Homo sapiens: one gene and its partners. The protein of the gene in region 3 purifies or fractionates together with the protein of the main gene of each other region. This does not show direct contact. Each region holds a gene or a part of one and is shown on either strand. Other genes may lie near its edges. The genes, in order: SRR, UBE3C, CLEC16A, CTSB, DSG2, SDF4 and SETMAR.

What was found.
Region 1: the proteins of CLEC16A (region 3) and SRR purify together in Homo sapiens (affinity purification with mass spectrometry, with the first as the bait; one study listed by BioGRID). This does not show direct contact.
Region 2: the proteins of CLEC16A (region 3) and UBE3C purify together in Homo sapiens (affinity purification with mass spectrometry, with the first as the bait; one study listed by BioGRID). This does not show direct contact.
Region 4: the proteins of CLEC16A (region 3) and CTSB purify together in Homo sapiens (affinity purification with mass spectrometry, with the first as the bait; one study listed by BioGRID). This does not show direct contact.
Region 5: the proteins of CLEC16A (region 3) and DSG2 purify together in Homo sapiens (affinity purification with mass spectrometry, with the first as the bait; one study listed by BioGRID). This does not show direct contact.
Region 6: the proteins of CLEC16A (region 3) and SDF4 purify together in Homo sapiens (affinity purification with mass spectrometry, with the first as the bait; one study listed by BioGRID). This does not show direct contact.
Region 7: the proteins of CLEC16A (region 3) and SETMAR purify together in Homo sapiens (affinity purification with mass spectrometry, with the first as the bait; one study listed by BioGRID). This does not show direct contact.

Annotation. Positions count from the first base shown.
Region 1 is NC_000017.11:2,302,731-2,306,749, forward strand, and holds the start of SRR (serine racemase), read left to right. Parts: upstream 1-1,219; 5' UTR 1,220-1,287; intron 1,288-3,746; exon of another isoform or gene 3,747-4,019. Other genes in the region: SMG6 (telomerase-binding protein EST1A), read right to left, coding at 903-990. UniProt on the Homo sapiens protein: Catalyzes the synthesis of D-serine from L-serine. D-serine is a key coagonist with glutamate at NMDA receptors. Has dehydratase activity towards both L-serine and D-serine.
Region 2 is NC_000007.14:157,141,926-157,145,425, reverse strand, and holds part of UBE3C (ubiquitin-protein ligase E3C), read right to left. Parts: intron 1-3,500. UniProt on the Homo sapiens protein: E3 ubiquitin-protein ligase that specifically catalyzes 'Lys-29'- and 'Lys-48'-linked polyubiquitin chains.
Region 3 is NC_000016.10:10,943,270-10,947,363, forward strand, and holds the start of CLEC16A (protein CLEC16A), read left to right. Parts: upstream 1-1,294; 5' UTR 1,295-1,448; coding exon 1,449-1,528; intron 1,529-4,094. UniProt on the Homo sapiens protein: Regulator of mitophagy through the upstream regulation of the RNF41/NRDP1-PRKN pathway. Mitophagy is a selective form of autophagy necessary for mitochondrial quality control.
Region 4 is NC_000008.11:11,854,588-11,858,087, reverse strand, and holds part of CTSB (cathepsin B isoform 1 preproprotein), read left to right. Parts: intron 1-147; exon of another isoform or gene 148-230; intron 231-3,500. UniProt on the Homo sapiens protein: Thiol protease which is believed to participate in intracellular degradation and turnover of proteins. Cleaves matrix extracellular phosphoglycoprotein MEPE. Involved in the solubilization of cross-linked TG/thyroglobulin in the thyroid follicle lumen.
Region 5 is NC_000018.10:31,518,677-31,522,176, reverse strand, and holds part of DSG2 (desmoglein-2 preproprotein), read right to left. Parts: intron 2,375-3,500; coding exon 2,240-2,374; intron 1,375-2,239; coding exon 1,213-1,374; intron 1,079-1,212; coding exon 934-1,078; intron 95-933; coding exon 1-94.
Region 6 is NC_000001.11:1,216,431-1,219,216, forward strand, and holds the end of SDF4 (45 kDa calcium-binding protein isoform 2 precursor), read right to left. Parts: exon of another isoform or gene 2,504-2,786; intron 2,498-2,503; coding exon 2,339-2,497; intron 2,204-2,338; coding exon 2,028-2,203; intron 1,375-2,027; coding exon of another isoform or gene 1,259-1,374; coding exon 1,082-1,258; 3' UTR 501-1,081; downstream 1-500. UniProt on the Homo sapiens protein: May regulate calcium-dependent activities in the endoplasmic reticulum lumen or post-ER compartment. Isoform 5 may be involved in the exocytosis of zymogens by pancreatic acini.
Region 7 is NC_000003.12:4,301,895-4,306,168, reverse strand, and holds the start of SETMAR (histone-lysine N-methyltransferase SETMAR), read right to left. Parts: upstream 2,801-4,274; 5' UTR 2,799-2,800; coding exon 2,643-2,798; exon of another isoform or gene 2,498-2,642; coding exon of another isoform or gene 2,301-2,497; exon of another isoform or gene 1,690-2,300; coding exon of another isoform or gene 1,567-1,689; intron 1-1,566. UniProt on the Homo sapiens protein: Protein derived from the fusion of a methylase with the transposase of an Hsmar1 transposon that plays a role in DNA double-strand break repair, stalled replication fork restart and DNA integration.

The DNA of each region.
Region 1 (4,019 bases), on a different chromosome or scaffold from region 3:
GGTAGGTTCATGAAGTATCCACAAAGATAAAGCAGTTTAACCCAAGAATAGCTCACCCTCGGCAGTCTGTAACTTGGTGGGGGGCGGGGGGATGGGGAAAGCTATTCCTACTACTTTCTAGAGCAGCGGGAGAAAATAGCCTTAATAATCCAATTATGTTAATCAACAAAAACCAATTTCACAGACTGGCCGCAAACCTAGAGAAGGCACCTATCACAGCTACCATTCTACACAACTCTATTGCCTAACGCAGGAGAGGTGAGACACTTAGAATCTTTCTTACTTTCCTGACGTGGCTGGAGACTTGAAATTAACTTGCAAATTGAGCATTCTCTCTAATAAAAACTGCTCCCACACATGCCAGGGCCAAACCCGAGTAGTCTGAGGTCCCGGATCCCTCCAGTGGCGCAGCTTTCGGAAGCCTGTCTTGGGGGGGAAAAGTTCAGCAACGAAGTCGCAGGCTCTTAAACCTTTCTCCCCAATTCCTTCTCTCCGACGTTAAAGCGGTGGCCGGGGCAGGCCCGCGGAGGGCGGCCTGGAGAGCGATACGCCCGGGGCCTCCACCAGACCCCACTCCTTTCCGCGTCTCCCGATGCCTGGGAATCCGGGGCGGGTCTGAGAGGGCTGGGGCAAAAGGAACAGTCACCTTCGCGGCGAGAAAGAGGGTGGAGGCAGGAATTCGGGCCAGGCTCTCCCGGAGCTGGCCAGGACTGGCCGAGCCCGACCCCGCACTAACCCGCGAGAGAGGTAGGGCAGCGAGGGTCCGCCGCGGCCCCAGCGCCTACTGCTGGGGGAAGGGGCGGGGGCTCCGGAGCCGAGGGCCGAGCGGGGAGGAGGCAGAGGAGGAGGAGAGGGAGGCGGGGCGGGCAGGCCCGGCCCAGGAGCTGGGCGGCGCGACTCACCTCTGCTCCCGGCCTGCGGGGCCAGAGTAGCCAGGATCCCGCGCAGCTCCGACGCGGAGATCCGCACACGCTCCAGCCCTTCCGCCATCTTCGCGGCTGCTGCTACAGCCGTAGCGGCTCCGCCACCGCCGCGCGCAGCCAGGAAACCACCACAGACGGGCGGCGCGCGCGCTCGCCCACCTCCCGGCCTTTCCCCGCCCCCTGCCGCCCTCCCTTTCCGAACGACGGTGGCCGCGCTGGGAGGAAAAGCGCCCGCCGCCGGTTCCAGAGGGGCGGGACCGGAGCGAGAGCCTGGGTGGGGCGGGCGGGCGCTGCGCGTGCGCAGAGGTGCGGCCGGGGAGGCGCGCGGAGGCTGGAGCTGGAGGCGCGGCGCCGGTGAGCTGAGGTGAGGCGAGGCCGGGCCGTGCCAGGCCAGGCGGGCGTTTGCGGCGGTGGCTGCCGTTGCTGTTGTCGTGGACACCAAGGACACTGCTAGTCTGGGACTCGGGTTGACAGAGACACCCCTCAGCCTGGGCTCCTCTGGACACCTTAGGCCAGGCTCTCCCGCCACAGGCCCGGCCTAGCGCCGCGGGCCATTACTTGGGACCTTGAAGATCTGCTAAGAGTAGTTGTTACTATTCCCTTTTTTTTTTAGTTGGAGTCTCGCTCTGTTGGAGACTCCCGGGCTGGAGTGCAGTGGCGCGGTCTCGGCTCACTGCAACCTCTGCCTCCTGGATTCAAGCGATTCTCCTGCCTCAGCCTCCCTAGTAGCTGGGATTACAGGTGCACGCCACCAAGCCCGGCTAATTTTTGTATTTTTTGTAGAGACGGGGTTTCACTAGGCTGGTCTCGAACTCCTGACCTCAGGTGATCCACCCGCGTCGGCCTCCCAAAGTGCTGGGATTACAGGCGTGAGCCACCGCGCCCGGCCGCCCCCTGACTTTTAAAAACTAGATACGATATAGTTGGAATCGTGTGGAAGGAAGTACATCAGGAGGCATATAAGTCCATTTGGGACCTGTAATCCCGGCGACTCGGAACGCTGAGACGGGCGGATCGCTTGAACCCGGGAGGCGGAGACTGCAGTGAGCCGAGATCGCGCCACTGCACTCCAGCCCGGGAGTCTCCAACAGAGCGAGACTCCGCCTCAAAAAAAAAAAAAAGTCAATTTGGGAATTTCTGTGTCACTATGGATTCTTGAAAAAAATTACTGCTGTGGATCTCAGGTTGACTTTTTAATTTCCCATCTTTAAAATTGAACTATACCAGAAGGCTGGTACTTGAATCTTTTTTTGGAGAACTGTACAGAGGTGAAGCTCCCTTCCCCAAGGCCTCCTGCCTCCACCTGTTGCCCCTCCACAGCCCCATAGGCTTTTACCCCACACCCATCACAGAATAGTTACCAATTATTCCTTAGTCTGAGCCGAAGGGATTGCCACAACCTCTGACAGAACTCCTTCAGTTCCTTTTACGTGACACTTTGTCACCGGAAGGTTAAGCATAAGAAGAAAGTCAGTAGATGATGGGTGAAAAGATCCAACAGTTCAGAAGAGGAACCATTTGAGTGGTCAGAGCAGAAGACAGCCTTTGCCACCAGATTTGAGAGAAATAGGAAGAAGCGTTAAAAAATAATCTGTTTCATATTGAAATTTGAGAGGCCATTGCATGATTTCTTTTTTCAGCTGGAAAAATAATGGAAAACAAGAAAACTTTCTTAGGACAAATGGCACCACCCATTTAATGCAACAGTGTCAGTGAACTGCAGATTAGATATGCCAAAAGTTAAACCAGTTCAAGAAAATTTACCAGAACTCAGAAGGAAAAGGTAATAGATAAAAACTGAGAGACAAAGATAGGAGACATGGAGAAGGGGTACAAAAAATTAATAATTAAATACGAGTTCCAGAAGGGGATAATACAGCTGACTGCAGAAGAGCAATAATCAAATAGTAGAAGAAAATTTACTACGTTGGTGGAAATTTTTGAATTATCAGATTTAAAGAATTCATGAAATACCAGGTAAAAAGAAATGACAAGAAAGACAACCATATTTAAGTCAGTATCACAATGAAAGCTGCTGAGATTTTTTGTTTTTCGTTTTTTTTGAGACGGAGTTTCACTCTTGTTGCCCAGGCTGGAGTGCAGTGGCACAATCTTGGCTCACTGCAACCTGCCTCCTGGTTTCAAGCAATTCTCTTGCCTCAGCCTCCTGAGTAGCTGGTATTACAGGCGCCCACCACCATGCCCAGCTAATTTTTTGTATTTTTAGTAGAGATGGGGTTTCACCATGTTGACCAGTCTGGTCTCGAACTCCTGACCTCAGGTGATCCACCCGCCTCAACCTCCTAAAGTGCTGGGATTACAGGCGTGAGCCACCGCGCCCAGCCTTGAATTCAGTTTCTAAAAGTAAAAATTGTACAAGTTGGCCGGGCGCGGTGGCTCACGCCTGTAATCCCAGCACTTTGGGAGGCCGAGGTGGGCAGATTGCCTGAGCTCAGGAGTTCCCAACCAGCTTGGGCAAGATGAAACCCCATCTCTACTAAAATACAAAAAAATTAGCTGGGTGTGGTGGCGGGCACCTGTAGTCCCAGCTACTTGGGACGCTCAGGCAGGAGAACTGCTTGAACCTGGGAGGCAGAGGTTGCAGCGAGCCGAGATTGCTCCACTGCACTCCAGCCTGGGCGACAGAGTGAGACTCCGTCAAAAAAAAAAATTGTACAGGTCATATTTACTTAGCACAAAGTAATAAAACTAGAAGTGAATAGCCACAAATGAAGCAAAACATTCTAACCATTTGGAATTTTTTTAAAAACAACAATTTTAGGCCAGGCCCCGTGGCTCATGCCTGTAATCCCAGCACTTTGGGAGGCCAAGGTGGGCAGATCACTTGAGGTCAGGAGTTCGAGACCAGCCTGGCCAACATGGCGAAACCCCGTCTCTACTAAAAATACAAAAACTAGCCGGGCGTGGTGGTGGGTGCCTGTAATCCCAGCTACTTGGGAGACTGAGGCAGGAGAATCACTTGAACCAAGGAGGTAGAGGCTGCAGTGAGCCGAGATCACGCCACTGCACTCCAGCCTGGGTGACAGATAGAGACTCTGTCTCAAAAATAAAACAAAACAAACACTTTCCACCCAT
Region 2 (3,500 bases), on a different chromosome or scaffold from region 3:
CTGCCTCAGCCTCCTGAGTAGCTGCAATTACAGGCACCTGTCACCACGCCTGGCTAATTTTTGTATTTTTAGTAGAGATAGAGTATCACCATGTTGACCAGGCTGGTCTCGAACTCTTGACTCCAGGTGATACACCCTCCTTGGCCTTCCAAAGTGCCGGGCCTCCTCCTTTTTTCTTTTTTTTGGAGACAGAGTCATGCTCTGTCACCCAGGCTGGAATGCGCTGGCACAATCCAGGCTCACTGCAACCTCCACCTCCAGGGCTCAAGTAATTCTCCTGCCTCAGCCTCCCACGCCCAGCTAATTTTTTGTATTTTTAGTAGTGACGGGGTTTCACCACGTTGGCCAGGCTGGTCTCAAACTCCTGACTGCCTACCTCGGCCTCCTAAAGTGCTGGGATTACAGGCATTAGCCACCACACCTGGCCAGCAATGAGGATTTCTAGGGCAATGACACTCTTCTGTATAACGCTGTAAGGGTAGATACATGTCATCATATATTCGTCAAAACCTACACAATGCACAACACACAGTGTGAACCTGAATGTACACTATGGACTTCAATTAATAATAACACATCGACATTGGTTTATCAATTGTAACTGATGATCCACATTAATGCCAGATGCTAGTAATAGAGAAAAGTGAGGTGAGGGAGACTAGGCATATGGGAACCCTACCCTCTGCTTGATTGTAAACCTGAAACTGCTCTAAAAAATAAAGTCTATTTTTTTTTAAAAAAAGCACTGGACAAACATTAAAGTGATCTTAATTCTACTCCCACTATTGTCAGATCTACAAAAACTTAAAAAATTTCAGTTCCTCCGGTCTACAAACTTTTCTATATCCATATTCATCCCTAGCTTCTTTAAGTCTCAAAATATTTCCCATTGCCTGCTCCCACTCAGTTCTCCCCTCTCGGGTATTCTCGAAGACTCTGAAAGTTATGCCACTCCTGTCTTCCCCACATTTTTAACCCCCGTCCTTCCCAGTCTATAAACTTAAGTTTCCCCCGTCTCCCAAAACAGACAAAACTATTTCCGAGACACCGAATTTCCCTCTATCATCCAATCTTCCGGTGCTTTTCAAAAAAGGTCTACACTGTTGCCTTGCCCCTGCCTTATTTTTTAAGAGATGGGGTCATGCTGTGTCGCCTAGGCTGGAGTGCTATGGCATGATCACAGCTCACTGCAGCCTTGAACTCCCGGGATCCAGCGATCCTCCCGCCTCAGTCTTCGGTGTGGCAGATTGTAGGCGTGCGCCACAGCATCCGGCCTGTGTTCGGCCCTGTTTGTGACTTCCCATTCACTCTCCAATGTGCTATGCTCTTGACTTCCAACTCTGACTACCCTACAGAATATGCTCAAATCACCCAATTCTTCCCAGCTCCGCAGTCAGTGGACTCACTGTGTCTGTGCAGCACTTGGCATTGCCTGTCACTCCTCCCTCCCTGAGATTCACTCCCTGGACACCACTCTCCTCCACTCCCGGAGGTGTGACTCTTTTGTAAGTATCCCCAACTCCCACACATATTAAATGTTGCAGTACCTCACGAGTCCCACCCTGTCCCAAACTCCAAGTCCTCTTAAGGACCTGTGTTCGAAGCCACCATTCTGTTGATAACCCCCAAATCTGCATCTCTAGCCTAGACTCCTTCCTGTGCCTGTCCCACAGGAACTCAGGCATTCAGTCAACGACCACTCCCCGCTTCTTGAAGAATCTACCCCAGCCCTCAGGTGCACCTAGACTGTTCCATCTGAACCAAGCCTCCAAGCCCTCCTCAGACTGAGGTTATCAGGTGGAAACATGACCCAGGCCAATCAGACTTTCCTCTCCTGAAAACTGGTAATTATGATCAAACTTTCTTGACGCTTAAGCTAGGAAACCATGTGTGAGAAATGGAGAAAGCCAGTCTGCAGAGCCAGGAATGAAGGAGACAGGAAGAAGGGAGTGCACCCAGCTCCTGGAGAAAGACAAGCAACTCCTGTGGTGGTGATACCTGCTATCTGGGTGTTTCTGACCTTTCTATTCTGTCAGACACGCCTATCCTTTCATAAACTTGTTTTTGTTTCTTTTTGTTTTGCCTACTAAGCTAGTTTTAGTCCATTTCTGTACTTGAAATCAGATGACCCCGTGATATTCTTCTATACACTACCAAGAAAAACATACCCCCAATTAAACTGCATCATGCTATCAGTGTGTATCCCGATGTCAGAAATATTTAAAGATAGAAATCAGTGTGACTTAAAAAAAAATTTCAGGCTGAGCGCAGTGGCTCATACCTGTAATCCCAGCACTTTGGGAGGCTGAGGCAGGCGGATCACCTGAGGTCGGGAGTTCGAGACCCGCCCGACCGACATGGAGAAACCCCATCTCTACTAAAAATACAAAATTAGCCAGACGTGGTGGTGCAGGCCTGTAATCCCAGCTACCCGGGAAGCTGAGGCAGGAGAATCGCTTGAACCCGGGAGGTGGAGGTTTGTGGTGAGCTGAGATCGCACCATTGCACTCCAGCCTGGGCAACACTGCGCTCCAGCGTGAGCGAAACTCCATCTCAAAAAAAAAAAAAAAATTCAACTTTTATTTTAGAGTTAGGGGGTACCTATGCACGTTTGTTACAAGAATATACTGCAGGACGCGGAGGTTTGGGGTGTGAATGATCCCATTACCCGGGGAGTGAGCACAGTTACCAACAGGTAGCTTCCCAGCCCTTGTCCCCGTCCCTCTCTTTCCCCCTCTAGTAGTCCCTGGTGTCTATCATCCCATCTTTATGTCCATGTGTAATCAATGTTTAGCTCCCCAAAGTGACTTTGAATCAATGTAATCCAATCTACATGTACTCCACACACCCCGCTCCACGAACCTGGAATGCCTTCTCGTCTTCCACCCATCCTAATTACACCCATCCTTCAGGACTAAGCTCCAAACAATTCTACTTTTTCTGAATCAGGACCAAGGGAAATTTAGAATGTAGCAATTACTCTATTGTTATTTAATTTTTAATTGCTTAAGTCTTATCTGCCCAACAAGATTATCAACTTCTTCAAGTCAGACTTGTCGTACACAGATCTATACAAATAATAAATACTAAAAGTATTTAATTTGAAAAAAGAAAAAGCTTATTCAAAGGTGGTAACCACTCCATTTTCCACTAAGCTCCAGAAAGGGAAGATTTCAAATAATAATTTAAGACATGAGAAAAGGGTCACTATAACTTCATTTTTCCAACAAGGGAAGGGACTTATGCGGCAGTCAAAGAGAATTCAGGAAAACAAGCATATGTAGGTGCTCAACATAATTAGTTGTCAGGAAACAAAATTAAAACCACAAAGAAACTACATCCTCACTAAAATTAAAGGACTTGCAATATCAAGTGTTGGCAAGGATGTGGAAACCTGGATACCTTCAGATGCTGTGGGCGTGCGACACGGGGAAACTGTGGCAGCGGTGTGCACAACAGCTGAACATGCGTATCATCTAGGACCCAGCACAAGAGTATTA
Region 3 (4,094 bases):
AATCGGAGGTATACAAGGCAGTGTAGTATGTATGTGCGTACTTTTTACAGATGAAAAATACGAGCCCAGGGATCCTACATTTCTGAGCCTGGGTGTGTTTCTTTGGAGGCCAGATCCTGTTCTTTTTTGCTCCATGACTTTGTCTTGCCCCACTCTATATGAATTACAGGACAAACCATTAACTCTCCACTCTTATCCATTTCTCCAACTGCTGAAGGTGAAACAAACCTTTACTCATTCATGCACTCTACCAATATTTGTTAAACACCTGCTATGTGCCAAACCTTGTGCTAGGCACTGGGGAGAACATTGGCCTCTGGCCCAGTTCTTTCTTGAGCAGAGTTAATGGGACACAGTGGACCTTTAATAAGGTTGATATGTAGAAGTGACTGAATGAATGAATGGATGGTAAACTTGAGAAGTCTTGCCCACACTGAACTTACCACTTCTAATCCAGGGTAGAAGTTAGATATATTCTGGCTCATGCAGAAAGTTGGGTGTTTCCTTTTTCATTTTAACGTGGTACTTTGGGAAATAGCATGGATTCTGGCTGAAGACCAGAGGAATCCTCTGGAAGTACAAAATGTTCAGTTTGGTGCATTGTTGCATCCAGCCTTTTCCAACACACACACACACACACACACACACACACACACACACACACACACACACACACACTTAATTGAAGTGGAAAAAGAAAAAGGCTGTCAGGACAAATAAGGTTGTTATCTAGTGCCGTTTTGGTTTATAAAGGGAATGAAAAATAAGGGTGCGTGCGTGGTTATGAACCCTGGTTTTGCCACTTGTTAACTGCATGATCTTGGGTAAGTCAACCTCTCAGTGACTCCGTTTCCCTGATGATAAAATAGGTTCGATAATAGTACCCAATTCATAGGATGGTTGTGAAAATTAAATACCTTAATATGTAAAGCCCTTAGGATAGTGGCTTTGCATAGTATACACCATCCAATACTATTCTTATTCTTATTATAAATCTAGTAATTGTTACTACAGTGGTGACTTTCCTTGACCCATCTACGCCGATTCCCTCTCCGGGACTGCGCCCAAAGCTTCCAATTCCCGCCCACCCGGAGGATTCTGCGGTCGCTCCTCCTCTCGCCCCGCCTTTTGTGGATGGCCGTAGGCCCGCGGTTGCACGATGCATGCCGGGCCTTGTAGTCCGTTCGCGGAGTCCTGCCGCCGAAGGCCACGCGGGTGAACTGCATTTCCCAGCGCCCCACGCGGCGGCGGCCGTAAAGCGCGGCGGTCGAACGGCCGGTTCCGGCTGAATGTCAGTGCTGGGCTGTGGGCCGGGGAGGAAGGCGGCTCGCGGTTCCTCCACCGCCTCCGCCGCCGCATCCTCCGCTTGTGCTACCGCCGCGGGCGCTGGGCCGCTCTGCTGGTCCGGCATGAGACCGTGAGACGAGAGACGGGTCGGGGCCGCCGACATGTTTGGCCGCTCGCGGAGCTGGGTGGGCGGGGGCCATGGCAAGACTTCCCGCAACATCCACTCCTTGGACCACCTCAAGTGAGTGTGGGGGGCGTAGCGGGAGGCCTCGGGGCTGGACAGGGGGACGGGGCGCCGAGCTCCGGGTCGGGGCTCTAGGAGGCGTGAGAGCGGCGGCGAAGGGCGCCCGGGGAAGCCCGTGTGGTGGTTAAGAGCGAGGGCTCGGGAGTCAGGGCGCCTGGGTTCGAACCCTGACCCCGTCGCTCTTGGCTGTGTGACCTTGGACAAGTCGCTTAATTTCTCAGAGTCTCCGTATCCCCACCTGTAAAGCGAGAGGATGCGATTTCAGTTTATGGACACAGACTTTGTTCTTGACGGTGTCCACCAAGTTTCCTGGCGGGGTACTTCTTAAACTGAACAGCTTAGAGGGTCAAAGGCCTGGGTCCTGGAGTCGGGCAGATCTGGGTCCGAATCTATCTGTGTGAATGTAGGCCTCAGGTTCCCCACTTGTAAAAAGAGTAGAGTGACAGCACCTGCTTCCTGCTATTGTGTTGAGAGTTGGTTGGATAAGAGAATGAACGTTAAGCTCAGAACACGTACAATTGCTCATTAAACGGCATTAATTATTATAAAAGAACAGATTATTTTCCGAGGGGAGTCTAAGCTGGGGGCATGCACGCTGAGACCCAGGATTTTGGGGCGATTGGGGAGGATGATGAAAAATAGAGACCTCTGAGGAGGGAATGACTCTACAGCTCTGGGGGAGGACAGGTGGCAGATAGGGTCTTGGGACCAGGAGTGCAGAAATTAAGAGGCTGGCTTTGCAGCCACACCTGCGTTCAAATCCTGAAACCACCATTTACTGGCTGTGTGACCTTGGGCAAATTACTTCACCTCTCTGAGCCTCCAGATTCCCATTTGCAAATGGGGATCGTGAACATTGTAATGGAAATGGAAGGTGACTGACCCAGTAGGTACATAGTAGGTGGCCAGTAGTGGTAGCTGTGTTTATTATCAGCTCAGCGAGGCCTTCCCAGACCACCCTACCTAACGTGCTCCCCCCATCCCAGTTCCTATCCATCACATCTTTCTCTTGCTTTCATTGAGTGCTTCTCCACTCTCTGCGATTATTCTTTATTTTTTATTTATACTTATTTTCTGTCTTCTGTTAAACTGGCACTTCACGAGGGCACAGACTGCTTGGTTTGTTCACAGTTGTATTCCCAGCATCTAGGACTGCTCTCTGCTTACTTAAAGAGTGGAAAAATGAATGATTGAATTGGGGAGAGATGAAGAGCATGCAGGCCAGGACCCAGGATTTGGGGGCAGGTGTGGAGGATGATGAAAAATAGAGATCTGTATGAAGGGAAAGGCTTTAGGGAGGGAAATGGCGGGGATGCTGAAGAGGGGAGTAGACAAATCTTCAGTGTCAAGAAATAGGCAGGTTTCCAGAAGGAGATCCTGAGACTACTAATGGGAAAGGAGGAAGATAGGGTTAGGGATATGGTGGGAAGTAGTGGAAGGGAGACGGGGCTGTGGAAAGGATTGGTGGGAGGGAATTAGATAGGGACTTCTCATGTGTCCCCGGGAGTGGGGTAGGGGTAGTGGCAGGGCCACAGTTCTCAGCTGTGACCTTTCTAGCATGGAGCAGCATTTAGTAAACGTTTGTGAGTCTTGAAGAGTGGGGAGCAGGAGGGTTCACTATGTGGTGAGGGGCACTTTTAGAGCAGGAGGTGGTGAGAGAAGACAAGGGGAGGAAAGAGGCCCAGGACAAGTCTGGGGTGGGTAGGGAGGTGGGGATCTTAGATGGGAGGGCAGCTGGCCGGGAAAGGGAGTGGTTGAAGGATTTCAGGAATTTATCGAGTGGGCGGAGGTGGCTGAGGAGGGGAGGGGAGTTATCCAGAGGAGGTTGGGCCTCCTGCCGGCATCCAGGTACCTCCAGGTTCTCACCTAACTCTGCTTAACTCTAGCCCTTTTAAATTACCTTAATTTATTAATTTATCGAATGCATTATTCTGTACCAGGTATTTGCTAAGGACTGCCTGTGTGTTAATTCCCTTAGTCCTCACAAGTCTGAGTTACAGGAACCATTATTGTTTCCATTTTACGGAAGTGGAAACTAAGGTTCAGGGGGCTTCAGTGACTTGCCCCCAGGTGTCAGCAGCTGAAGGGTACCAGAGGCAGGATTTGACTCCCGAGCTTGTGCTCATTATACTGTCTTTCTGAATAAAACTTCCCAATAAGTCTGTTTGAGAACACTTTTGACTTGGCTGAGTCTCATCGCCAATGGGGCATCTTTGCCAGCCAGCAGGGAATGGTAAACGGTCTCTGGTTCCTTTGCAGTATCCTGGGAACTGCCTGGGTTCATTGTTTAGATCACATGTCTATCGGATGCTTCTTTGGAAACCCAAGTTGCCTGCCCTGAATCAGGCAGATCAGCTTAATCCATATTACAGCCCCAAGAACCTGAGATTTGTGTATTGGTGGGGGGGTTAGAAGATCCCCCAGTGACTTGGAAAAGAGTTTTGTAAACAGCCAGTGCCCACCCTGGGGCTTGTGCCACTCTGCATTTGGCTCTGTTGGTAAACATCTTGGGTCTTGGGTACAGAACAGCTCGTTCCCTGAGGGAGTTTGCAGGCTGGTGGGG
Region 4 (3,500 bases), on a different chromosome or scaffold from region 3:
TGGTTACTAGCTCCATTTTATAGGTGGTGAAACTGAGGCTTGGGGAAGGTCAGACCCCAAGGGTGCCATTTAGTCAGTGGCAGAGCCAGATCCAAATGCAGGTCTCCTGACTCCAAGTGCAGGGCTCATTTTATCGTCCGGTTGCAGCACGCTGGCGGCCCCTTGAGCCCCAACCTGGATACCATAGGGGAGGAGCAGAGAAGCCAGGAACACCACAGCCCTGGGCCAAGGTGCGGGGCTGAAAGAACTTCCCAGCGCTCAGCCTGGGACTAGTGGAATGGGCTGGGCCCTGGGGCTGGCAGCGGTGGCCCCGGGGAGCCTGGGAATGAGTAGGGAGCACAGGGAGGTGTGGGAGGGCCTGGGAACCATGAAAAGGAGGGCGGGTGCAGGGAAGTCGCCTGCTAGTGAAGTGGCGAGGGGGCCCTGTGGGACTCCAGGGAATGGCCACGGCAGGTTGTCCTCCAGGAGTTGAGAGCCACTGGACATGGCAGCTGCCTGTGTTCTCAGCCACCACAGTAACCAAAGAAATCTTGGTTTTAAAATTCAAGTTGCCATGGAAACGCTCCCATCCTCGACTTGGCTTATTATTTAAAATAACATCTCTACAGCACAAAGCCCCCGGGTACATCCAAGGACACTGCTGTCTGCCCACGAGACATGCTAACCTCACAGTGTGGAGGCTGTGTGGGTCACTGACATGCATGGCCACGTGAGACGCTGCCTACCCACGAGTCACGGAAAAGGGGAAGATTATTAAGAAAGTCACTAGGGGCCAGGTCCAGTGGCTCATGCCTGTAATCCTAGCACTTTGGGAAGCTGAGGCAGTTAGATCCCTTGAAGCCAGGAGTTCAAGACCAGCCTGGCCAACATAACGAAACACGGACTATACTACAAAAATTAGCCAAACGTGGTAGCACAGGCCTGTAATCCCAGCTACTCAGGAGGCTGAGGCACAAGAATCACTTGAACCTGGGAGGTAGAGGTTTCAGTGAGCCAAGATTGCGCCACTGTACTCCAGCATGTGCCACAGAGCGAGACTCCCATCTCAAAGTCACTAGGGAGGAAGCCTCATTGGTGGGAAGGAAGACCAAATTGGAAATGCTCTGAGGAATCATTAAAACAAATGTCCTTTTATCAGTTTGGTGGCTCAGGGCCTTTAGTAATACTGCCAACTATTTTTCCTAGAAGAAACAAAACTGAAATAATAGGAACATACTCACTTTTTTTTTTTTCTTAAAAGTAAGGGTATGTTGTGAAAAAAAGTCTCCCCACCGTAGTGACCGACTGCCGTGCATCTTCCTTGGCATTTTGCATGTAGTGGCAGGAGTGTTCCTACATGTGTAGATTGCTGAGAGGGTCAGATGCTTATGGTCCTCAGTCACCCACAGCTTGCTTTTTCCCCACTTAACATTGGGACTTGGGGCATTTTTACTCTGTTAATACAATAGAATTCACTTCAACTAGTTGGTTTTTTACTTTTATTTTATTATTATTATTTTTAGATGAAGTCTCAATCTGTCGTCCAGGCTGGAGTGCAGCCTCTGCCTCCTGGGTTCAAGTGATTCTACTGCCTCAGCCTCCCAAGTAGCTGGGATTACAGGCATGCGCCACCACGCCTGGCTAATTTTTTGTATTTAGTAGATACAGGGTTTCACCACCTTAGTCAGGCTGGTCTCTAACTCCTGACCTCAGGTGATCCAACCGCCTCGGCTACAGGCATGCGCCACCGTGCCCCACCAACTAATTGCTTTTTTAATGGTTGCTTCATATTCTATTTAACCACTTACCGTAATTTAACAGTTACTCTGTTATTGGATACTTGATTCATTTCCAGGACATGCAGATTTAGAAACTGGTGGGCGTTGCTGGTTGATGTCTCGGTGGTTGTGCCCACCCACCCCAGGCACTCATTATCATGCCTTCCGTTTCCCCACTTCCTAAGCCCTGCAAGAAGTGCCAAACTGTCCAGCCCTTGCCAATCTGATACATGCTGAATACCTCCTTGATTTTATCTGCACCTCCCTGAGGTTGAACTTATTTTACTTTATTTTATTTTATTTTTGAGGCAGAGTCTCACTGTCACCCAGGCAGGAATGCAGTGGTGAAATCTTGGCTCACTGCAATCTCCACCTCCTGGGTTCAAGTGAGTTGAAGCAATTCTCCTGTCTCAGCCTCCCAAGTAGCTGCGATTACAGGCACCTGCCACCACACCTGGGTAATTTTTGTATTTTTAGTGGAGACGGGGTTTCACCATGTTGGCCAGGCTGGTCTCAAACTCCTGACCTCAGGCGATCCACCTGCCTCAGCCTCCCAAAGTGCTGAGATTACAAGCTTGAGCCACCATGCCGGTTGAACTTATTTTTATCTGTGTTGGCCATTTGTAGTTTTTCTATTATGCTGGTTCCATTTTTCTGACTTTGAAGAGCCTTTTGTGGAAACGAAGCCTAAAGTATATGTGAGTACTGCTTTGTTTCGTCAGTTTTTGTTTTAAAGAGACTTTTCAGTGTAATGCAAGCATTTTCCCTTGAAGGCTGTGTTTCCTGTCAATCCTAAGCTTTCCTCCAGCATTACCTTTTTAAAAAACTTTATTTTCTATATTGATGGGGTCTCACAATGTTGTCCAGGCTGGTGTTGAACACCTGGCCTCAAGTGATCCACTTGCCTTGGCCTCCCAAAGTACTGGGATTATAGGCATCAGCCACCGCACCCAGCCTGTTTTTCAAAGGGCATTGATTTTTTTCATAAAACTTTTTAAATTAAGATCTGTGGGCCTGGTGCGGTGCCTCACGCCTGTCATCGCAGCACTTTGGGAGGCTGAGTCAGGTGGATCACGAGGTCAGGCGTTCGAGACCAGCCTGGCCAAAATGGTGAAACCCTGTCTTTACTAAAAATATGAAAATTAGCTGGGCATGATGGCACATGCCTGTAATCCCGCTGCTCGGGAAGCTGAGGTAGGAGAATAGCTTGAACCCAGGAGGCAGAGGTTGCAGTGAGCCGAGATCATGCCATTGCACTCCAGCCTGGGGGACAGAGTAAGACTCCGTCTCAAAAAAACAAAACAATTCTGTGTTGCATGTGGTACTTTTTGTGTGTGAGGAGTCCAGTGTGAAGATTCAGACTTCAGGCAGCCACTTGTACAAGCACTGTCCTGTTTCCTCTCTGGCCTCACCTAGGTAACGCTGATTCCTCCACGGAGGATGTGCTTCTGAGTGGTCCGTTGGGTGCTGTGCTGATGAGCATCACCCAGCATTTTACGACACATGTGCTGCCCCAGAGGGCTGGGCTCCCGTCAGAGCTCTTTTCCACTGGCTGGGTGCGGTGGCTCACACCTGTAATCCCAGCACTTTGGGAGGCTGAGGCCAGTGGATCACCTGAGGTCAGGAGTTCGAGACCAGCCTGGCTAACATGGTAAAACCCCATCTCTACTAAAAATACAGAAATTAGGTGCGTGTGGTGGCGCACACCTGTAATCCCAGCTACTTGGGAGGCTAAGAACCTGG
Region 5 (3,500 bases), on a different chromosome or scaffold from region 3:
GCAGGCTCCAGAGATACGATTCTATAGGAAATTTTCGAATTCAGGGTATTGGGCTCATCTGCATCTGTTGCATTGATTTTCATCACAAGAGTATCTGGCATTAGAAATAAAGATGTCTAAGATGAAATTCAACTTTAAGCATATTTACCTGTTATTTTATTTATAATTTTAGCTTGTTCCAAAAAAGATTTCAGGTGCTTATCAAAATCACATACAGTTGACCACAATATAACATTTAACTGGATGAGGACATAAGCGTGAATGGGATATAACAATAGTAAAAACAAGATGAAGGCAAGGCTGAGGGTAGAGTCCTGAAAAATTGCTGTATAAGGGCACAGATTTGTTTATAATAGTATTAGTAGCCAATACAAAGAAAGTAACATGAGCAGGTACATGATCCTGATATCTATTAAGATACAAACAAATCAGGAGAAGCGTAACTATTCCTTACATCATGGTCAAAAAGAAATCTCTCATTCGGGTCCTCATGAAGAGCACTGTGTTGAACAATGTTGTGAATAAATATTACAGTAAAAATAATACAACTTACAGGTCAGCAAACTATAGCCAAAGCTGTAGGGCCAAAGCTAACCAGCCACCTGTTTTTGTAAATGAAGTTTTATTGGACCACAGCTAGGCTCATTTGTTTACATATTGTCTATGGTGCTTTCCTGCAGATAGCAGAGTTGAGTAGTTGCTACAGAGACCTTATCCATCACATTAATCTACCCTATCTGTTCTGAGGGTAAAAGCAATGGCATGTAAAGTCCTTTAAACCTATAAGGAAAGCAGTTCTGAACTGCTTTCTTATCATTTGTTCTGTAGGTAATACTCAACTTTCATTAAGATATGAAATTTAGTGTTTATTTACAGTGGGGATAAAGTAATCTTAGGTATTTATTTATTAAAAAAAAAAAAAAAGACTCTTACGTGCTGCACTCAACTCTTCAACAGACCCAACAAAGACATCCTGTGTGAACACTGGTTCGTTGTCATTGATATCAAGAACCTTAATGCGTAGCTCTAAGGGTTTCTCTACATTGTTTCCTCTTGCATCCAAAGCGTAACCTGTTAGCTGAAATCATGACATAAATAAGATTAGATTTAAGCTAAGAAAACTAAATTACCATACTATGAAAAAATAAAACAAATGACACTTATTATGACAGAAAAACTACAAACTAATAAATCTAAAATTATTCTTCTTACCAGAAAAAATGGTGTTTCTTCTCGATCAAGAATGCTGGTAACATTCAGTTCTCCAGTATCTTTGTTAAAGACAAATATACCAAAAGGTGGCTCTGTAATCCCTTTTCCAGTGTATTTGTAAGTAATTTTGAGTCCTCTTTCTTCTGCAAGATCAGAATGTATCTAACATAAAAATAACAGGAATGTTTCAGGTTGAACTCTCTGTAATTTACTAGATTTGATCTTAGCCAAAAGCCTAAGAAGTGATTCTCTATAATTTACAGGTAAATATTTTTATGGACAATTTCCTTCTGAAGTTCTTTGGTAATACAGGCCAGAGATGACATGACTTGGACTAGGGGAATGGCAGTGGAGTTGAAGAGAAGCAGCAGATTTGGAATATATTTTTGGAATAGAACTGATAGTGTGTGGTACATTTTTGGCTTGAAAAACTGGAGAGAATTATAGCATCAATTACCAAAATGGGTAGAACTTATGAAGAAAAGCTTTGGGGGGAAAAAAATGAAGGGTTTATGTTTGTGCATGCCAACTTTGAAATATAGAGTAGCAACACTATCACATAATTTATCAAAAAAATTGGACCCCTTGAGAGTGAAAACACAGATATTAATTATTAAGCCAGGAGAGCAGGCATAAACCACGACTGTCTCAGGCAGATGAAGATGGTCCCCCTACCTAGTAATAGACACCAGTTCATCTTGAAAATGACATTTTATGACATCCTCTTTTGAGCACTGAACATTTTGTGTTACCAGTGCCAAATCCCTTTACTCTTAGTTAAATCAAAACTCAAAGTTATCTATATTTTTGCCAATGATGCTGCATCTTCCGGAATGGGAAAGAGAATCTTAAAGTTGATACTTTATGCTAAAAAGTAAGCTCTGCTAATTTTCAGATATATCTTGAATATTTAAAAATTCTGTAAGCACATCATACATTTTCCTTAAATCTTAAAGTAGACATAAAAGTCCTCTCACACCACATTTTAGTCATATGCATGTATTTCATGTTCCTCTTTAGGAGGTACCTTGGCAATTGGATTCTTCTTGGACAGATCCTCTCCCTCCCGAAGAGCCACGGGGGCGGTGATCCAGGCGCGCTTTTGCCGCACTAAATGAGGATGTTTAGGAAGCAGCTTATTTTCATTTCTTGTGCTTAAGACCTATAACAATAGAATATTGCCAAAATTTATTATGTGTCATAAATATAGAACATTAGTATGCTGTCCTATAACATAATAAACTTTTAAATAGTGCAAATTTTAAGGTATGCTTCGTATTTCCTATGAGGCTTCATTGTCTAAAAGGGAATATATATATTCTAGCAAACTGCATAGGGCCTCAAGAGATTGTCTCCAAGCTAGTAAAAGTGTAGGGTTTTTTCTGGTTTATTTTTTCTTTTGAGACAGGGTCTTGCTTTGTCACCCAGGCTGGAGTGCAGTGGCATGATCTTGGCTCACTGTAGCCTTGACTTCCCCGGATCAAGCCATCTTCCTGCCTCAGCCTCCTAAGAAGCTGGGATTACAGGCATGCACCACCACATCTGGCTAATTTTTGTATTTTTAGTAGCTATGGGGTTTCACCATGTTGCCTAAGCTGGCCTTGAACTCCTAGACTCAAGCCTCAAGCAATCCGCCCGCCTCAGTCTCCCAAAGTGCTGGGATTACAAGTGTGAGCCACTGTGCCCAGACAGTAGAATTTTGTTTTTAACTGTAAGAAATGATTTCCCAGAGTGAGAGTTTGAAAAGTTTAAAGAATCATTTAGTAGCCTTACAAATTGGCAAAGTAAAAAATAACAGATCATGTCAAAAACGTTTTTTCTTATTAACTGAAAATGAAGTTTCATTTTTCTGTGGTGGTTTGTGGTTTAAAAATAAATTACTAAATGTTTTTTAAGGCTAAATCTTAGTAATCTATTGATATAAACTTGACTAAAACCAGGGAAACTGCCAGTTAATGAATTTATTGTTTTCAGGATTGGGTAAAGAATTAAATTTCCCATTTCATTTTCAGAACCTTAGGCAGAAAACCATTCTATAAATTTCCAGTTGGGTTTTACAGGTGAATATATATTTTATCCAAGGGAAATTTCAATACAGCTGACCTGGGATCTTAAGATCAGAAATAATCCTTATACTAGGTTTGGTTTATCATTTTACTCATTTTGTTGCTCTATGTAATAGGTATTTTACTTCAAAATATGTACTCTGGTTATCACTAGGTCATTGATTTTTTTTTTTACTTGAACAAAATTTTCTATGACAAAAAATTGAAATTACTTTTTCATTT
Region 6 (2,786 bases), on a different chromosome or scaffold from region 3:
CGGTCACATGGGCACCACAGGGCAGACTGAAGAGGACACACTCCCGGCTTCCCTGAGCTCCCACTGGGAGAGCCAGGACACAGCCTGGGCCCCCACACGCCACAGAGCAGGACCCCCACCAGCCGTCCTAACACACCCCATTCTCTGCCCCATCTGGGGCTAGGCCTGCCCCACTGCACCCAAAGACCTTGCCATCCTCCACCCAAAACCCCCAGGCGGCTCTGTCTCCTGCCTTAAATGTCCAAACCCCAAACTCAGTGGGCACGTCTGCTGCCCCCTGACCCCTACTCACAAACGCAGCGCTGCCCTCCGTCCTCCCAGAGCCCCTGCCCGTTGCCACCTGCCAGGAGAATCACCTCGAACCGGCCATGACCTCCAACCCTCCACGTGACCCAGCACCAGCCTCCAGCGCTCCAGTGGAAACTGTAACCACAAACCTAGCACGCTGCTGTTGTGTTTTGTTTCACGCCCAAAGAATGAAGCTGACCAAAAAAGGCAACTATATTTAAAGTAAATGTATGTGATTCTTGTCACAACAAATATTTGCATTTTCTCAGCGGCAGCTGCGGGACCTGGGTGGCTCCGACACGCCAGGCCCGGGAAGGACCCGGCACCCTCCCCTGAACTTCCTGGCTACTCATTTCCAGCGAAGTTTAATCTATTTTTAATAATCGTTCAGTTTTCAAGGAAATGGAGGAGCTGTTTTTTCCCACGGAGCGGCGGCCCTGGGAGGGGCCGGGCCCAGAGGTTCCGGCCGCGATGCCGTCAGCGCCTTCGGCAGAGTGACTGAAGCGAGATTTCGTTCTCAGAAGTGAGATGCCACGATTTCGAGGGACCAGGGAGGAGGCGGCGCCGCGGGGCCACAGCCCAGCCCCGCGCCCCGACCGCGTCACAGCCAAAGCCCCGCCGGGGTGCGCGCTGCAGAGGGGACACGCCGCTCATCAACTGGGGCAGCCGCGGTCGGTCGGCCGGTGGCGGGCGGCAGGGAAGAGGTGGGGTCCGGGACAGCCACGGAGCCCGGAGTCACCCGCGAGGCCGCCCCGGTGGTGCGTGGGGGGCGGCGCGGGGCGCGGCCGGGCGCTCAAAACTCCTCGTGCACGCTGCGCGCGTAGTCCACCAGCTTGCTGCCCGTGAAGAACTCGCTGTACTTGAGCACCTCCTCGGGCTCCAGGTGGTGGTTCTGGTTCTCGTCGGCGACGGCGATCATCTGCTTGGCCTCGTTCAGCGCGTTGTACTCGTTCATGGGGTCCATGTAGCTCTGCGGGCGAGCGGGGCACAGGTCAGCGTCGCCTTTCCCCCTCCGAGCTCCGCGGCCAGCCGCACGAAGTGGCTATTTAAGGTGCCTATTGGCTGCAGCGGGAGTGTGGGCACGTTCTGGAAGGTTCCCGAAGGGAGGCGGCACAAATGAAAACACAGGGCAGGGAGAAGCCGGGGGCCCCGGAAGGCCTGCCCGGGGCCAGCAGGGGTAACGGGGCACAGGGGCTACACAGGCCTGGACCCCAGTTCTGAAGGATCCCTAACCTGGGCCGGGCCCACTGGCTGTCGCCAGGAATCACAGGATTCTACATAAAAACAAGATGACTCACTCAGCAGTGGGAGAAAAACAAGCCTACACATGATACCAGTGAAAACGCTTCAGAGGAAGGTGGTAAATTCCAGCCATGTGGCACAGGCCGCCCCGCCCACCTGCACCTGCTGGGCCTTGGACCTGCCTCCATGCTGGGCCCAGCATGAGCTTCCCCTTGTGGTCCCGTTAAAAAGGGGCTGTGAGAACCCTGACGCCTCCGCAAGGGGCTGAGGATGGAGCCCGGCCAGGCTCGCCTGTCTCTGATCCGTCTGAACCTAAACGCCAACAACGGCCATGCAGCCTGGTGGACACCGCTGAGCAAACGCCCCAGTGACCAGCCCAGATGGAGTCTCAGGCCAGACACCAGCACAGCTTCCTGCCTCAGGCCCAGATCCACCAGCCCCTCCCGCCACAGCACCTCGCAGGGCCGGCTCCGGGACACGGCTGCGCCAGGGCTCACCTCCAGCTCCTCGGCGGTCACGATGCCGTCGTGGTTGGAGTCAATGAGCTCCTCAAACTCCTTTTTTCTGTCTTTCACCCAGTTGTCGTCAATGTCCTGGCCCTGCTGGTTCTCCACGGTGCCCACGGGCAGGGAGATGAACTCGGGCACAGAGAGCTGCTTGTCACCGTCCTGGTCTGCGAGACGGGAATGGGTCAGCCCACACCCAGGCTGGGGCTCCCGCAGGACCTGCCCCGACCTCCCGACGATGCCCGGCCCCTGCCAGTCGGTCCTGGGTCCTGGCGTGCCGGCCAGGCTGGACCCAGCCTCACCCAGGTCCCGGACGATCTCCTTCACCATGAACCTGAGCATTCCCCGGCTGTGCTCGGGGTGGAGGAACGACAGGAACTCCTCCTCCGTCAGCAGCAGGTCTGCAGGGGGGCTGTCCGCCTGGTACCAGCGGTCCTTCAGGTTCTCCAGGACTTCCTGTGCTGAGAGGGGCGCAGCCTGTGGGTATCGAGGCCGACAGACGCCAGCACGCAAATCCAGAAAGTTCCGAGAGGTGCTGCCTGAACTCGAGGGACACAGCCACCCGCGAGACCGGGGCCCCACCCTCCAGGATTCACACGTCCCCAGAACATGGCCCAGCCCCTAAGACACAGCCTGGACCCCCGCCAAGACATAACCCAGAGCCTCCCACAGGCCTGATCCCCAAAGGCATAGCTTGGACCCCTCCACACAGCCCGGACTCCCCAAGACAGCCTGGACCCCCCCCTGCCC
Region 7 (4,274 bases), on a different chromosome or scaffold from region 3:
AATAGTCTCAAACGCACACACACACGCACGGCAGGAATATTGAAGCTAATCGTGACAGTTGTAAACACCTTGAGGGTAGAGTGCGTTTTTCTGTTTGTTGTATTCTTTGCAGCCCAACCCACCACCTTGCATATATTTAGCTCTCAATAAATATTTGTTGAATTAAGAATGGACTAGAACAGTGGTTTTTTAAATCAGTGTTTTTGACCAGGAACTCAGCAATGCTTAGTCCTAAGTTTTCAGGGACCACTGTTTAATATTGGGCCAGCTAACTGTATTATTAACTATAAATTGCCAAAGGTAGTCTGGGGAACAATAATAATTTCTGACATTAATATCTTATTCTACTCTTTGAGGACTAAACTCTGATTTTTTCTTATCTTGCCCAAATTCCTACCCAAGGCACCTGGGGAGTCATGCCTTACAAACCATAAAGTCTCATCAGAGGAGTTTTAATTTTAACCCTATATAGCATGGTCTGCTTTCTACCTGACTCTGGCATAACATCAAATAACAAATAAGGGAAGAAATCAAAATATTTTAACCCCAAATATATTTCCTTGCCATATCTTGAAATTGCCCTGGAGGGTTGTCTCTTGTGGGAAAAATCCACATTCTATAGAGAATCCCCTTTCCCCCTCTTTTTCTTTCTTTCCACAACAAGGAGATAATCAACTAAGACCGAGGCACCTTTTTAAGTTAGATAAGAAACATTTTACAACCTGCTCCCTCTGAAGTCAGCTGGGAGTCTCCTCCCCACAATTAAAACTTGGGTCTCTACATGGCCGGGTGCGGTGGCTCACGTCTGTAATCCCAGCACTTTGGGAGGCCCAGGTGGGTGGATCACTTGAGGTCAGGAGTTTGAGACCAGCCTGGGCAACATGGTAAAACCCTGTCTCTACTAAAAATACAAAAATCAGCTGGGCGTGGTTGTAGGCGCCTGTAATTCCAGCTACTCGGGAAGCTGAGGTGGAAGAATCGCTTGAACCTGGGAGGCGGAGGTTGCAGTGAGCTGATCGCACCACCACACTCTAGCCTGGGTGATGGAGTCAAGCTCCGTCTCAAAAAAAAACCCTTTATCTTAACCTAAACATTTCTATTGATCCCAGGTCTTCAGACAAACTCAACCAATTGTTAACCAGAAAAATTGTTAACCAGAAAAATTAAAATCTACCTATAGTCTGGAAGCCCCCCCCACCACTTTGAGTTGCCCCGCCTTCTGAACCAAACCCATGTACATGTTAAATGTATTTGATTGACGTCTCCTCTCTCCCAAACATGTATAAAACCAGGCTGTGCCCTAACCACCTGGGACACATGTTCTCAGCATCTCCTGAGGGCTGTGTCACAGGCCATGGTCACTCATATTTGGCTCAGAATAAATCTCTTCAAATATTTTAGAGTTTGATTCTTTTCCTTGACATCTTTGAAAGCTGCTATTGAATCTCTTATCTTATCTGATCCTCACAAAAACCCCTAGGAAAAAGAAAGGGCAGATAGGGTTCATTGTTGATAATGGATGTTAAAGGGGCTATGCATTTTTAAATTATTATTTTCATTTTGCAGATGAAGAAACTCAGGCTCTGGGAAGTAGCTAAGATGTCTAAGCTCCGAACCATACTCTCCAACTTCCACGTCCAGCGCTCTTTCCACTTCAAAATCTTTGGTCATTCCTTATTCCTTGGGTAACGCTCAGGCCAAGGTCGGAGGGATAAGAAAGTCAGTAGAGGCTGGGAGCGTGGCTCATGCCTGTAATCCCAGCATTTTGGGAGGCCGAGGCGGGCGGATCACCTGAGGTTGGGAGTTCGAGACCAGCCTGACCAACATGGAGAAACCCTGTCTCTACTAAAAATACAAAAATTAGCCGGGCGTGGTGGCCCATGCCTGTAATCCCAGCTACTCGGGAGGCTGAGGCAGGAGAATCGCTTGAACCCGGGAGGTGGAGGTTGCGGTGGGCCGAGATCGCGCCAGTGCACTCCAGCCTGGGCGACAGAGCGAGACTCAGTCTCAAAAAGAAAAAGGAGAGTAGAAAGGGCTTTGAGGTAGTTAATAGAAGCAAACATTTACTGAGTTCTTACAGCAAACCGGAAAGTGTATTTTCCTTGCCATTTTCAAAGCACTCCGGAAGAGAGGTACTGTTCCACTGTACGCTGGAAGACTCTAAGGCTGAGCCACAGCTAATTTACACTCGCCCAAGAGCCCACAGCGTGAGGGAGACCACAGCTAAGGCTGACTCGAGGGGCTGTTTTTATGCACGACACCGGCTGCGATCCATTAATAGGCCCCACGGCTTATCCTACCTGTGAGAGACACCTGAGACCAGGGAGGTAAATGACTCCCCCCGTGATGCCTCCTTGAGTTCTGAGGACAGGACTGGACAAAAAGCCAGGTTCTCACAAGGCCTCCGGTTCTGCGCTTCAGGGAATGGACTGAAAAGGACAACACCCTTGCTAAGGTGATGCCGTGGGTCAACAGAAAAAGGCCCAGGCCGGGGCATGCACACCTATTCCCGCGCACCAACGGGTGCGCTGTAAGAGAAGACAAAAGGTCGCGACTGGGAGGCCGTCCCAGCGAGGCGGCTTGAGGAGACCACGTGGGGGAGCCGCGCGCCCGCCTCCCGCGCCGCCTGGCCCCGCCCCTACCTGGAAGGGCGCCGGCGCGGCCCCCGGGGGCCACGCGCCCACCGGCAAGTTTTCCTGGCCGCACGCGACATCCAGCTGCTCAGTCGGGGCCTCAGGCTTCTCCTTAAACTCCGCCATCCCACAAGGCCGTGTCGTCTTTGCCGCTTCCGCGAACATTTACCCGCCTCACGCAACGCCCACTACCCTGACAGTCCTGGGCCGCGCGGTGGATGCTGGGACTTGTGGTCCCGTGGCCCCACCGCCTCATGGGAATTGTAGTTCGTTTCTTCTCAGGAGTGGCCTGGAAGGCGCTTCCCTTCCTTGACTTTTTGGGTCTGGCTCCCGTTTTGATTTCAGCCAGAGGCACCACAGATAATTACAAAACCATGTAAGGTACGGACGAAACAAAGTGAGGTGCTTTAGTTTTTCCTGGGAGCATCAGAGAGGGGGCTTTCGAGGTGAGGTCATTTGTCCAGGTTTTTGAGGGCTCACTGCACGTTTGTGGAGTGGAGGCAGGGGTGCGTTCTAAACCGAGCGGGGAAACGCACACCAAGGTTTCTAAAGGTCTGCGGCTTGCCGGGAAGTTGACTGACATGTGATAGGGTTTGTGCCAAGGCGATAGCCTCACAGGGTGCCTTAAGGAATTTGTGTGGGGGCATGCTCACTCCCTGATGGAGGTATCCGTGCCCCTTTGCCTGTCCTTTTCCCTCCTCTCCATCCCTCTACCCTCACCCCTCCAAACCCCTGCCCTGCCAAAGGATTCTGATAGCCTCAAGACTGCTGAATCCGGTGGAGCATTTTCAACCTCACTGAAGCTCTCTGACATGATTGTCCTGCTTCTCCTTGAAACTGTAAACCAAAAATAAAATTCCAATCCTCCAAACCATCTGAAGGGACCCCTCCTCTCTGCCAAGGTTAACCTGAGAAAGTGGTTCAGGCCATGATGGGAAGGGGGGTCCAACATGCCTCATTATGCCCTTCTTCCTTTTGGAATTCAGGAAAAGCCAGCCAGCATCAACATCAACACACACCTTAAGTCTGATAAGAAACATTTACAATCTGTTCTCTGAAATTTACCTCTTGGAGGCTTCATCTCCACGATCAAATTTGGTATCCACAACCTCTTATTGCAACCCAGACATTCGTTTCTATTGATTTTAGGTCTTTAGATAATAACCAGTTGCCAATCAGAAAATCTTTAAATCTACCTATGACCTGGAAGCCACCCCTCACCCGCTTCTCGTTGTCTGCCTTTCCAGATCCAACCAATCTTACATGTATTGATTGATGTATTATGTCTCCCTAAAATGTGTGAGAGTAAGCTGTATCCCAACCACCTTGGGCACATGTCATCAGGACTGCCTGAGGCTATGTTGGGGGCGCATTCTTAAGCTTGGGAAAATAAACTTTCTAAATTGAGACCTGTCTCAGATAATTTTGGGTTCACAAACCCTTCTGACCTTGCAGCTTCTGAGGTCCCATTGGCCTAAATGTGTTTCCATCTTGCAGACCTTTCCTTGTTAGTATCCTCTTGTTGTTTTCCTGCCTGACTGTTTCTGAAAAGTGGGTGTGATTCAGGGTTCTGCCCTTGACCTTTTTCTTTGCTCCCCTTCCCTGAACTTTCTCATTAATAACATCCACTCCCATGGCTTC